Linked DNA regions of Homo sapiens: region 1 is linked to region 2. The links come from fine-mapping of genetic effects on gene expression. A gene starts in region 2. The other region holds a variant in brackets. All regions are shown on one strand. Distances are between the middles of the regions.

Region 1 (5,374 bases), 84 kb before region 2:
GCTGTAACTTTGGGAGTAACAAGCCCACTCATAAGGTTGTTGTGAAGCGTAAATGAGACTGCGCGTGCAAGGTGCTCAGCTGGTGTCTGGCACATAGTAGGTATTCAACAAATGGTAGCCACATAATGCTCTTTTTTTCAGTTTCCAAACCTTCCATGTAGTGATTGGAGAATCGTGAAGTTACTTTTGAAGTAACGTTTGGGTTTCACACACTCATACATTTAGTAAGCAGAATTCTTGCTTACACTGTTGCCGATTGCAACGGTGTGTTTGCATAATGGAAGCTATGTTTGTGCCTTTGCCAAGGGTGTGGAATATGCCTTCCCTACCATGTACATGTCCCCTTTTCTCCATTCCTTAATAATAGTTGATATTTTTTGAGTGTTTGCTATGTTACAGGCACTGTACTAATCCCTTTACTGAATTATTCAATCCTGTAATAACCCTAATCATAGGAACTATAATTTTTATTTATGGAGGGAGAAATGGGCTTAGAGATGTTAAGAAGTTTATCCAAAGGCATAGAGCTATTAGCCAGGCAAGGTAGCACACGCCTGTAGTCCCAGCTATTTGTTGGGGCTGAGGCAAGTGGATTGCTTGAACCTGGGAGACAGGCTGCAGTGAGCCGAGATCACGCCATTGCATTCAAGTCTGGGTGACAAAGTGAGACCCTGTCTTGGCTGGGCGCAGTGGCTCACACATGTAATCCCAGCACTTTAGGAGGCTGAGGCGGGCGGATCACCTGAGGTCAGGAGTTCGAGACCAGCCTGGCCAACGTGGTGAAACCCCGTCTCTACTAAAAAATACAAAAATTGGCTGGGCGCGGTGGCTCACGCCTGTATTTCCAGCACTTTGGGAGGCCAAGGCGGGCGGATCACGAGGTCAGGACCTCGAGACCATCCTGGCTAACACGGTGAAACCCCGTCTCTACTAAAAAAATTCAAAAAAATTGGCTGGGCTTGGTGGCGGGCGTCTGTAGTCCCAGCTACTAGGGAGGCTGAGGCAGGAGAATGGCGTGCTCCGGATGGCGGAGCTTGCAGTGAGCCGAGATCCCGCCGCTGCACTCCAGCCTGGGCGACATAGTGAGACTCTGTCTCAAAACAAACAAACAAACAAAAATTAGCCGGGCGTGGTGGTGGGCGCCTGTAATCCCAGCTACTCGGGAGGCTTTGGCAGGAGAATCGCTTGAACCTGGGAGGCAGAGGTTGCAGTGAGCCGAGATGCCGCCACTGCATTCCAGCCTGGGCGACAAGAGCGAGGAGACTCCGTCTTAAAAAAAAAAAAAAAAAAAAAGTGACACCCTGTCTCAAACAACAACAACAACAACAACAAACAACAACAAAGGCATAGAGCTAGTAAAGGCCGATCCAATGCCATGTCACTCCAGAACCTAGCGCTTAGCTACAAATTTCATTCATTCCTTCAGATACTTATTGAACGTTTACAGTGTACCAGCATTGTGCTGGGTGTTGTGGATACAATGATGATCAAAACAGATAAAGCCCCTGTCTTTAAATTGCTTATAAATCTAGCAAGGGAGATAGTAAATATATAAATAAAACTAAATATTAATTACGATTGTGATGCATGCTGTGGAGGACAGTAGAGGGTGCTGTGAGGATACATAATGGAGTCACCGGCATGCGGAGGGGGAAATGAGGAGAGACAGGGAAGGCTTTCCCAAGAAAATAATATTTAGCTGAGACTTAAAGGACTGAGTTGGAGTTAAATTGGACAAAGAGCTAACAGGAGGAGGGAAGGGCATGTGTGAGGTCTTGAGACTAGGAGGAGCTTGTATCTTGTTACTTAAAGACCCCTGTGAGGCTGTAGGTGGTGGCTCACACCTATAATCCGAGCGCTTTGGGAGGCTGAGGTGGGAGGATCATGTGAGGCCAGGAGTTTGAGACTAGCCTGGGCAACATAGGGAGACCCCATTTCTACAAAAAATAAAAAATTATCTAGGCGTGCTGGTGTGTACCTGTTGTCCCAGTTACTCAGAAGGCTGAGTCAGGAGGATCACTTGAGCCCAGGAGTTTGCGGCTACAGTAAACTGTGATAATACTACGGCACTCCAGCCTGGGCAGCAGAGTAAGACCCTGACT[CA/C]AAAAAAAAAAAAAAAAAAAGAAAAAGAAAAAAATAAGCATTAAACCAGACTGGAATGTATTATGGATAATATGCTAATGCAGTTTCTTTCAGAAAAGAAATCCCACCACTTATTTGTATGCAGCTGAGCAGATACAACCCATTATGTAGTCTCAAGATTAATGGTAATTTGTCCTCTTATAAGAAGACTTGACAGCACCATTTGCTGTACATGTTTTCATAGTTCATTCTAAATTCACCTGGTAATTGGGTTGGTCATCTGTGCTACCTAGTTACTTTTTTCCAAAGGAAAACATGAAACAGCTCTATGATAAAACAAGTAGTTGAGGTGCCTAGGCTAAACTTCCACAGTGATAGGGATAGGGCTGGGGCATTGTCTTCCTGGATATTTCCATTTAAAATAGGGGGTTTGGCTGAGCACGGTGGCTCACGCCTGTAATCCCAGTACTTTGGGAGGCTGAGGAGGGCAGATCACCTGAGGTCAGGAGTTCGAGACCAGCCTGGCCAACATGGCGAACCCCGTCTCTATTAAAAATACAAAAATGTGTGGTGGCGTGTGCCTGTAATCCCAGCTACTCAGGAGGCTGAGGCAGGAGAATCGCTTGAACTGGGAAGCAGAGGTTGCAATGAGTCGAGATTGTGTCACTGTACTCCAGCCTGGGCTACAGAGTGAGACTCCACCTCAAAAAATAAATAAATAAATAAATAAATAAACTTACGTATGTATGTACGTACGTTTGTAAAGGGGGGGTTCCAGGCCCTTCAGAAAAACAGTCCTGGGTTTTACTGTATTTACTGGGTTTAAACAAGCTAAGCTAGGGGTAGTTTATTTAGCCTTTAAAAAGATTTGCATACATATCAAAGGGACAGAGGAATAATTTATAAATACTGGGTTTTTCAAAGAAATGCTGTGAGGAAAAGGAAGGAGAGAAGATCTCTTTCCCTTTGGAAACAGTGAAAATTCAGTTTTAAAATTTTTACTATATGTTTGCATGACAACTAAAAAAAAAATTTACTTACAGTACAGTAAAATGTTGGACTAGAGCAACATCCATAATGTTGGATGGTGTAGGAATTATTCATTCCCACCCCATTATACACATAAGAAACCTTTCTTTGGTAGCCAATGTTATTTTAATGCAAAAATGAACTCTCTATTCTGGAAGGCCATAAGCATGAGGGTGAAAATTGGGATTGAATGGTGTGTAAATTCAGTTTGAAAGCTTCTTGCCACCCACCCAGATAGGAAATACAACAAATTCCTTAGGATTTTACCTGAGCTCTCCCTCCTATCTTCTAAAGTTCCCAGTAACATGAGGCTTGGCCATTTAAACTGCTTAGTGGAGGGAGAGGTCTGTGATGGCCACTGAATTTGCTACTGGAGAAGAGTCTTGATCCAGACCTCAAGAGAGGGTTCTTGGATCTTGTGTAAGAAATAATTTGAGGCCAATCCATAGAGAAAAGTGAAAGCAAGTTTATTAGAAAAGTAAAGAAACAAGAGAATGGCTACTCCATAGGCAAAGCAGCCCTGAGGGCTGCTGGCTGGCCACTTTTATGGTCATTTCCTGATTATATGCTAAAGAAGGGGTGGATTATTCATGAATTTTCTAGGAAAGGGGTGGGTAATTCCCGGAACTGAGAGTTCCTCCCCTTCGTAGACTATATAGGGTAACTTCTTGACATTGCCATGGCATTTGTAAACTGTTATGGTGCTGGTAGGAGTGTCTTTTAGCGAGCTAATGCCTTATAATTAGCATATAATGAGCAGTGAGGATGACCAGAGGTCACTTTCATTGCCATTTTCCATTTGGTGGGTTTTGGCCGGCTTCTTTACCTCAGCCTGCTTTATCAGCAAGGTCTTTCTGACCTGTATCTTATGTGACCTCCTATCTCATCTTGTGATTTAGAATGCCTAACCTGCGAATGCAGCCCAGTAGGTCTCAGCCTTATTTTACCCAGCCTCTATTCAAAATAGAGTTGCTCTGGTTCAGATGACTGATAAATTGATTGAATATTGCTTACCAGTGGTTTGAGCTTCCTTGCTGTACTTAGCTAGTGTTTTATTAAGTAAGGCTATGTTTGTACTAGGAACACTAATTTCTGAAGGGGATATAAATTTTTCCAGTTTATATGAGCAGCACTTAGTGGTCATTAAATTGGATACTACTACATTAAGAAACTACCATTGCAGAATTCTCTATGAGTATGGCATTATAATCCAGATTGGTTTAAAATGTTAGCTAAACTGAATCAAAGAAACTGTACTGAGTTCCTATTAAGCAGCTAACTTGTTTATGTTCAATTGTTGCTTAGAAGCCTTTGTATTCTGTTTGAGTTGTTAAAACTTCAGACAAACTAAATTCAACAGAGTTTAACTGAACAAAGAATGATTTGCAGATCAGCAGCCTCTGGAACTAGAATAGGTTCAGAGTGACTCTGGGGTAGCTACATGGTTGGATAGTATTTGTGGACAGAAACAGCAAAGTGACATACAGAAAATGGAAGTGAGGTACAGGCCAGGCCCAGTGGCTTACACCTATAATCCCAGCACTTTAGGAGGCCAAGGCAGGAGGATTGCTTGAGCCCAGGAGTTTGAGACCACCCTGGGCAACATAGGGAGACCCCATCTCTTAAAAAAAAAAAAATATATATATATATAGATAGATAGATAGATAGAGATATGCAGGTGTACCACTCATGCCTGTGGTCCTAGCTACTCAGGAGACTGAGGTGGGAGGATCGCTTGAACCTGGGAGGTTGAGGCTGCAGTGAGCTATGATCACACCACTGCACCCCAGCCTAGGTGGCAGAGGGAGACCTTGTCTCAAAAAAAAAAAAAAAAAAACAAAAAAAAAACAGGGAAGTGAGGTGTAGAAAGAGCTAGATTGGTTGCAGCCTAGTGTTTGCCTTATTTGAGCAGTTGGCTGCCTATGACTGGCTGAAACTGGGCTGCTGTGATTGGCTGAGACTGGGCTACTTGTTACAAGAGTAGGTTAAAGTTTGTTTGCACATCCAGTTAGGTTACAGGTCACTAGCTATGGAGGAACATTTAGGCTAAACTTAAAATATGTAAGGAGGCAGCTTTAGGCTAAACTTCTTATAACAAGGTGATTAGAGCTAAGCTTAGGGATCTCTTCATCTCTTAGACAGTATTAGAATCCTTCCTGTTTAAAGTTCCAGCTAAAGGATTTTTTTTTTTACATGACCCCCTATTTGATGCACTTAAGAGTTAAGAATGTGGGCTTCAGAGTCTGAGTACGTTGGTTGAAAT
Region 2 (5,374 bases):
TGGGCTCGGGGAAATGACTCTTCCAACAGAACCTGGCTAGGGGTTTACAGCAAGAGCAAACAGACAGGTAGTCTCCACCCATACCACGTTATCTAGGAGAGTAGATGGTGACATCCAAACTACAAAACCAAATGCCACATTCCTGCTGACACACAACATCTGCGTGTGTGAGTAGAGCCTTCAGTTCCAGGCCAAAGGTGCAACCTGAACACCTACAGAGACCAAGCAGGCAAATGCATTGAGTCAAGCTGACAGGTGATTTGAGTCAAGCTGTCAGGTGATTTGAGTCAAGCTGTCAGGTGAGGAACCAAGAACTGGAACCAAGCACTTGTCCCGACCAAAAAGAGTCAGCCACTACCCAGCTTTTCAGGGAGCGTTTTATATGAAATCTGCTGGCAACTAATTTAAATTCTCTTAAAAACTGTTGAGGTTCAACAGTCAAGGACTGGATCCAGCCTATGCACTGCTAATTTGCAGATCCATTTTGAATAAACAGTTGTCTCAAGCCAAAACAAAAACAATTCTCAGCATCTATTTTCTTAGATCAATAAAAGCTTAACCTGTGCTGGCAAGGCTCCTGTTCCCTGCCTGAGGCATCCCTATTCGGCTCTTTTCAGATGCTTTTAGTCCAACAAGAGGGCGTATGTTTCTAATACTTTGTTTTCTAAACAGGTTATTTCGTATTACTGTTTGCATTGAATATCTTGAAAATGTTTGCTAGTTTTTAAGAGCATCTGAAAACCATTGAGGTAACTTATTTAAATGGTCCAATCTAATACCAGGCGGGAGTTAGAAAAACAAAAGTGTGTTTACCACTGCTTTTCCAAGGAAGAGGAAATGCAGAATGGGCAACGCTGGATAACTGGGCTAAAGAATAAAGTGCAAGCAAGCTAAAGGATTCTATCACAACTGCCAAACAGGAAGAATCTTCCCAGCTGGGAAAGCCATCTGCAAGCAATAGCAATGAACACGGGATGGAATCAGTCACAGAAAAGGAATAATGCAGAGTAGTTGAGAGGAAGATAACTTTTCTGTTAGACAATCCTCACCAAAAAGACGGGGAGGGGGAGAACCAGCAAAACAAAAACTTTTCCTTTTTTGCTGACCGCTGCTATAACAATCAAGCTTTAGCGGACAGTTAATCCAGGTGGCTCCACCAATACATCTTCTCCCAAATTTCTAGTGGCTGAACAGCTTCTAGTGGTTTCCACTAGCTGAAACTGCTTCCCAGATGCAAAAACTGCAACTTGAACATGAAACACGGAAACTACTCCAATCTCATCTTCTAGAAATCAGTTATTCAAATGGAGGTCCCTGTTGGAAGAAACACGCTCCTAGCTCCCTGCCCACACACCATTCATTAGGAAAGGTCACTTTAAAGGACTTCTACGGCAGGAGCGCTTGCACAGAACCATCCAAAAGTCTTCAGAATCTTCCCTCGAGGAAGTGGCCGGCTCTGGGCTCGGAAGAGACACATCTGGCGGGAGCTAAAGCTCCCTAGTAAACGTGCAGATCAAACTACCCCTGCCGCGGCCGGCCTGCTCTGTGAAGGCTTCCCCTTCTTTCTCTCTCCGGGGGCCCTGCCTTCCTCTACACGTCTGGGGCCGCGGCCGAGATGGCCACGCGCGTGCCCAGGCGGGAAGGGTGCTTCAGCAGCCGATCGGCCCGCGGGCAGCTAGGCGGGTCCCTGAGGCCTGCGCTGGGCGCCAGTTCCTTTCAGCACGGCCCGGCCTCGGGCCCCGCCCCGCATGGCCGCTGCCTACCTTACTCAGCCCGGCTAACGCCCCTTCCCCTAAGCTCTCCGCCGAGGCCTTCGACCTCGCTCCCACCCGGATCCCGGATCCTCCGGAACTGGAACCCAGTATGCCCGGCGAGGGTAGGGGGAGCGCGGGGAAACCAGGGAAGGAAGGCTGCTGCAGCCCTCGGAGGCCGCGCTGGGCTCTCCGGCCGCTGAGCCGCCTGCACTGGGGGCAACAAGCCCTTGGATCTCACCTCTCTCGGGCGCTGCCGCCACTGCTGCCCGGGCCAAGACGCCTCCTTCCCCAAGCGGCCATCTTGGAGACACTCTGCTTGCCAACGTCTCGCGCCAAGGCGGCATCGGGAGAGCAGGCGGGCCGACGGGAAGTGTAGTCCGGCCTGCGGTCCGGGGCCGCTCGGCAGGCGGAAGCCAGACCCGGCGGAACTACCGTGCCCACAAGGCAGCGCGCCGGAAGCCCCGCCCCCGGGGTCGCCGGGGCCCGTAGTCCTTCTGCGAGGGCGCGAGGACTCCAGGAGCCGTCCTGGTTCGAGCATTTCTGAAGAAACTGAGTTCCCGGCGTTCGCAGCCTGGGAGTCACAGGCGCCCACCCACCGGTAGGTCCTTGAGTTTCGAGAGCCAGTAGCTGAAGGAGAGAGGAGAGGCAAGTGCCTACAACTCCCAGAGCACTGCGCGGAGGCGCCCGGCCGCGCTGTCCTGGCCGCCAGGCTGCCTCTCCCGCTGGGGGCCGCCGCGCTGTCTGCGGGCTACTAGCGCCGGGCCCCTCCGCGTCGCCACGCCTGCCCTTCACAGCCTTGGCCCATAAGGTCACCGAGGGGCGGGAGGCGCCGCCCGGGCCCTCCTTGGAGGCGGGCGCTGCTCCCGCACCATCCTCCCCCAGTTCTCTTAGACTCCGGGGTACTTTGGAGGCCGAGACAGACACGCTGTCCCTGCTGCCACGGAGGTCCCTGCTTGCAGGTGCAGGCTGTTAGAGGAGAGGGTCTGAAAACAAGAAAGGGGAATAGCTGTATGATAACTGCTTGAAGGCGAGAGGGCCCAGCGACAGCTCTGTTTTAGACAGGGCCTCCAGGCCTCTTAGACTCAGTCCCTGCCACGCACCCACTCCTGCCCTGGCCGCTGCGACGGCATAATCTCGGGATCTTTGAAGGCAGATGCGGGGCTAAACCATCCCACCTGACGGGAACCCTGCCACAGGACCCGACATATCCCTGTCTGGACACTGCTGTAACGAGTCAAAGTCAGGAAGGACTAACTGGAGCCCAGAGATTCCCAGGTGCTGCTGCCTCAGACCTGTGGACTCTTTGGAGGATCTCTTACAGTTTGTGAACTTCTCAGTTCCTCTACTGCTCCCACAGACAACGTTGCTAAACATATTAATTGGTCCCATAAATACTTGAGCAAAACAAATGCGAAAATCTGTCCCGAATTCAGCCTAGAAGAAGCCCAGCCCTGCGCGTCACACTTCTGTGTAGTGGAACCCCCCTTCCCACCCCGCCGCAGGCCACAGCAGGAGGGCCAGCAGACGGAAAGGCGACCCTCTCCTTGTTGAGGATTCCTTTCGATTTCCTTCCAGCTGACATTCTACCACAGTTTTAGCTGCTTGCAATCCTCTCACCGTCCCTCATCACCTACAGTGTGTGATTCAAATTCCTTAGCACAATCAAGAAGCCCCTCCTTAGTTTGGAAGTTGCCTAGCTCTCCAAATTCAACTGCCTACCTTTCCCGTCTGGAACTTGCCAGGCTAGTAAATTCAGAGGGTTTGCAGATACGTAGATGTTCTATGCTTTACCTAAAATGCTTTTACCTCCCAGCCAACTTTTTTTTTTTTTTTTGAGACAGAGTCTTGCTCTGTCGCCCAGGCTTGAGTGCAGTGGTGCGATCTTGGCTCACTGCAACCTCCGCCTCCCAGGTTCAAGCAATTCTCCTACCTCAGCCTCCTGAGTACCTGGGATTACAGGTGGTGCCACCACACCCAGCTAATTTTTGTATTTTTAGTAGAGACGGGGTTTCACCATGTTGGTCAGGCTGGTGTCCAACTCCTGACCTCATGATCCATCCCCCTCAGCCTCCCAAAGTGCTGGGATTTACAGGCATGAGCCACGGTGCCCAGCTCTCCCAGCCAACTTTTGTCCTTCAAGACCTTGTACCTGTCTGGTCTCTAAAAAGTACCTGGCCTTCCTGTTGAGTCATACAGCCCTGCCTCCAAGTGTCAGCGTAGTTCATGCTGGAGACCTCTTAACAGTTCCATGGTATGACACTGCGGATATGGCTGTCTTTTCTTTGTATCAGTGTGGTGATTCAGAGGGTATACTAGGGATTCTAGAACGCACTTCTGGCTCAGGGGCTGCTTGTGTAACTTCTGTTTCTCAGCTGCCTGGTTTGTATCATGGGATGATAGTATCTCCCCTCAGAGGATTGCGGTATTTCATGAGGTGATACGTGTATGGAGGCCAAGTGCTGTTTTATATTTTAAGTGATCTACATCTTGATTTTCACAACAACTGTATAAAAGTGATACTGTTGGCCAGGTGCGTTAGCTCACGCCTGTAATCCCAGCACTTTGGGAGGCCAAGGCGGGTGGATCACCTGAGGTCAGGAGTTCAAGACCGGCCTGGCCAGCATGGTGACACCTCGTCTGTACTAAAAATACAAAAATTAGCCGGGCATCGTGGCACACGCCTGTAATCCCAGCTACTCGGGAGGCTGAGGCATGAGAATCATTTGAACCCGGGAGGTGGAGGTTACAGTGAGCTGAGATCGCACGACTGCACTCCAGAATGGATGACAGAGCAAGACTCTGTCTTAATAATAGTATCACTTTTTTTTTTAATCAACAATCTCATTTTGTAAATGAGGAAATCAACTTACAGACGACCTGAGTGACTTGCTCACACTGCCAGCCAGGAAAGTGCTAGGATTTGAGCCCAGACTGTCCAGTTACAGAGATTACACTCTGCCATTGTGCCTCTCCAGAAGCACTGGAGGTAGGTCTAGTGCATAGAGTAAATGTAAATGCTGAAACAACTGTGGCCCTAATGAACATCCCATTTCTCCAGCTTTTTACTCTCCCCTTAACTTCTGAATGACCGTCTGCTTCTAATCTGCCAACTTGGTCTAAGATCCTCACGGTGTTTCCTCCTGATTACTGTTAATGCACGGAGGTTGTCTGGAAGGTTCATAGGCAGCCTGATTGACTCAGTATGTATTAGCTGAGCACCTTTGGAGGGCACAGCCTGAGTGGTGGGAATTAGTTCCTGGGGGCTGTCCTGCGGTGGAGACTCCCGTGAGCCCTCTGTCCTGCTGTATGAAGGCAGCCAGTGGAAAGGCATGTCCTCGCTGGTGCTCAAAGTAATCTGCTACTTCTCTTACTACACTTTTCATTCATTCATTCTTAAATCGTTGAAGGCATACTCTGCAGGTACTCTTGGGCACAGAGATACGGTGTTTAGTAAGACAAACACTGTTCCTGGGTCTTAACGGGCTTTACATTCCAATGGGATAAACAACTTAAGTAAATATTTTCAGAGAGGAGTACCAAGAAGAAAAGGAACAGGATGATATAATGGAGTGACTTGGAGATCACAGGTGGTAAGAGGTCACTCTAAAAAGGTAACATTT

What was found. PIP is the estimated chance that this variant, and not a neighbour inherited with it, causes the effect.
Region 1: its variant is fine-mapped to the expression of TMEM11 in whole blood (INTERVAL, PIP 0.97).

The regions. Positions count from the first base shown.
Region 1 is chr17:21,127,602-21,132,975 of GRCh38, forward strand. The region is part of intron 1 of DHRS7B (dehydrogenase/reductase 7B); the gene reads left to right. Among named protein-coding and RNA genes, the nearest start is that of DHRS7B, 3.3 kb to the left of the region's middle. The variant CA/C (reference allele first, on the strand shown) is at 2,103.
Region 2 is chr17:21,212,099-21,217,472 of GRCh38, forward strand. TMEM11 (transmembrane protein 11) reads right to left here and starts at 2,063. Exons shown (of 2, transcript NM_003876.3): 1 at 1,993-2,063. The coding sequence starts at 2,054. It overlaps TMEM11-DT (TMEM11 divergent transcript), which reads left to right and starts at 2,227. Exons shown (of 2, transcript NR_184102.1): 1 at 2,227-2,352. RefSeq lists enhancers at 1,965-2,064, 2,835-3,044 and silencers at 2,145-2,284, 2,405-2,674.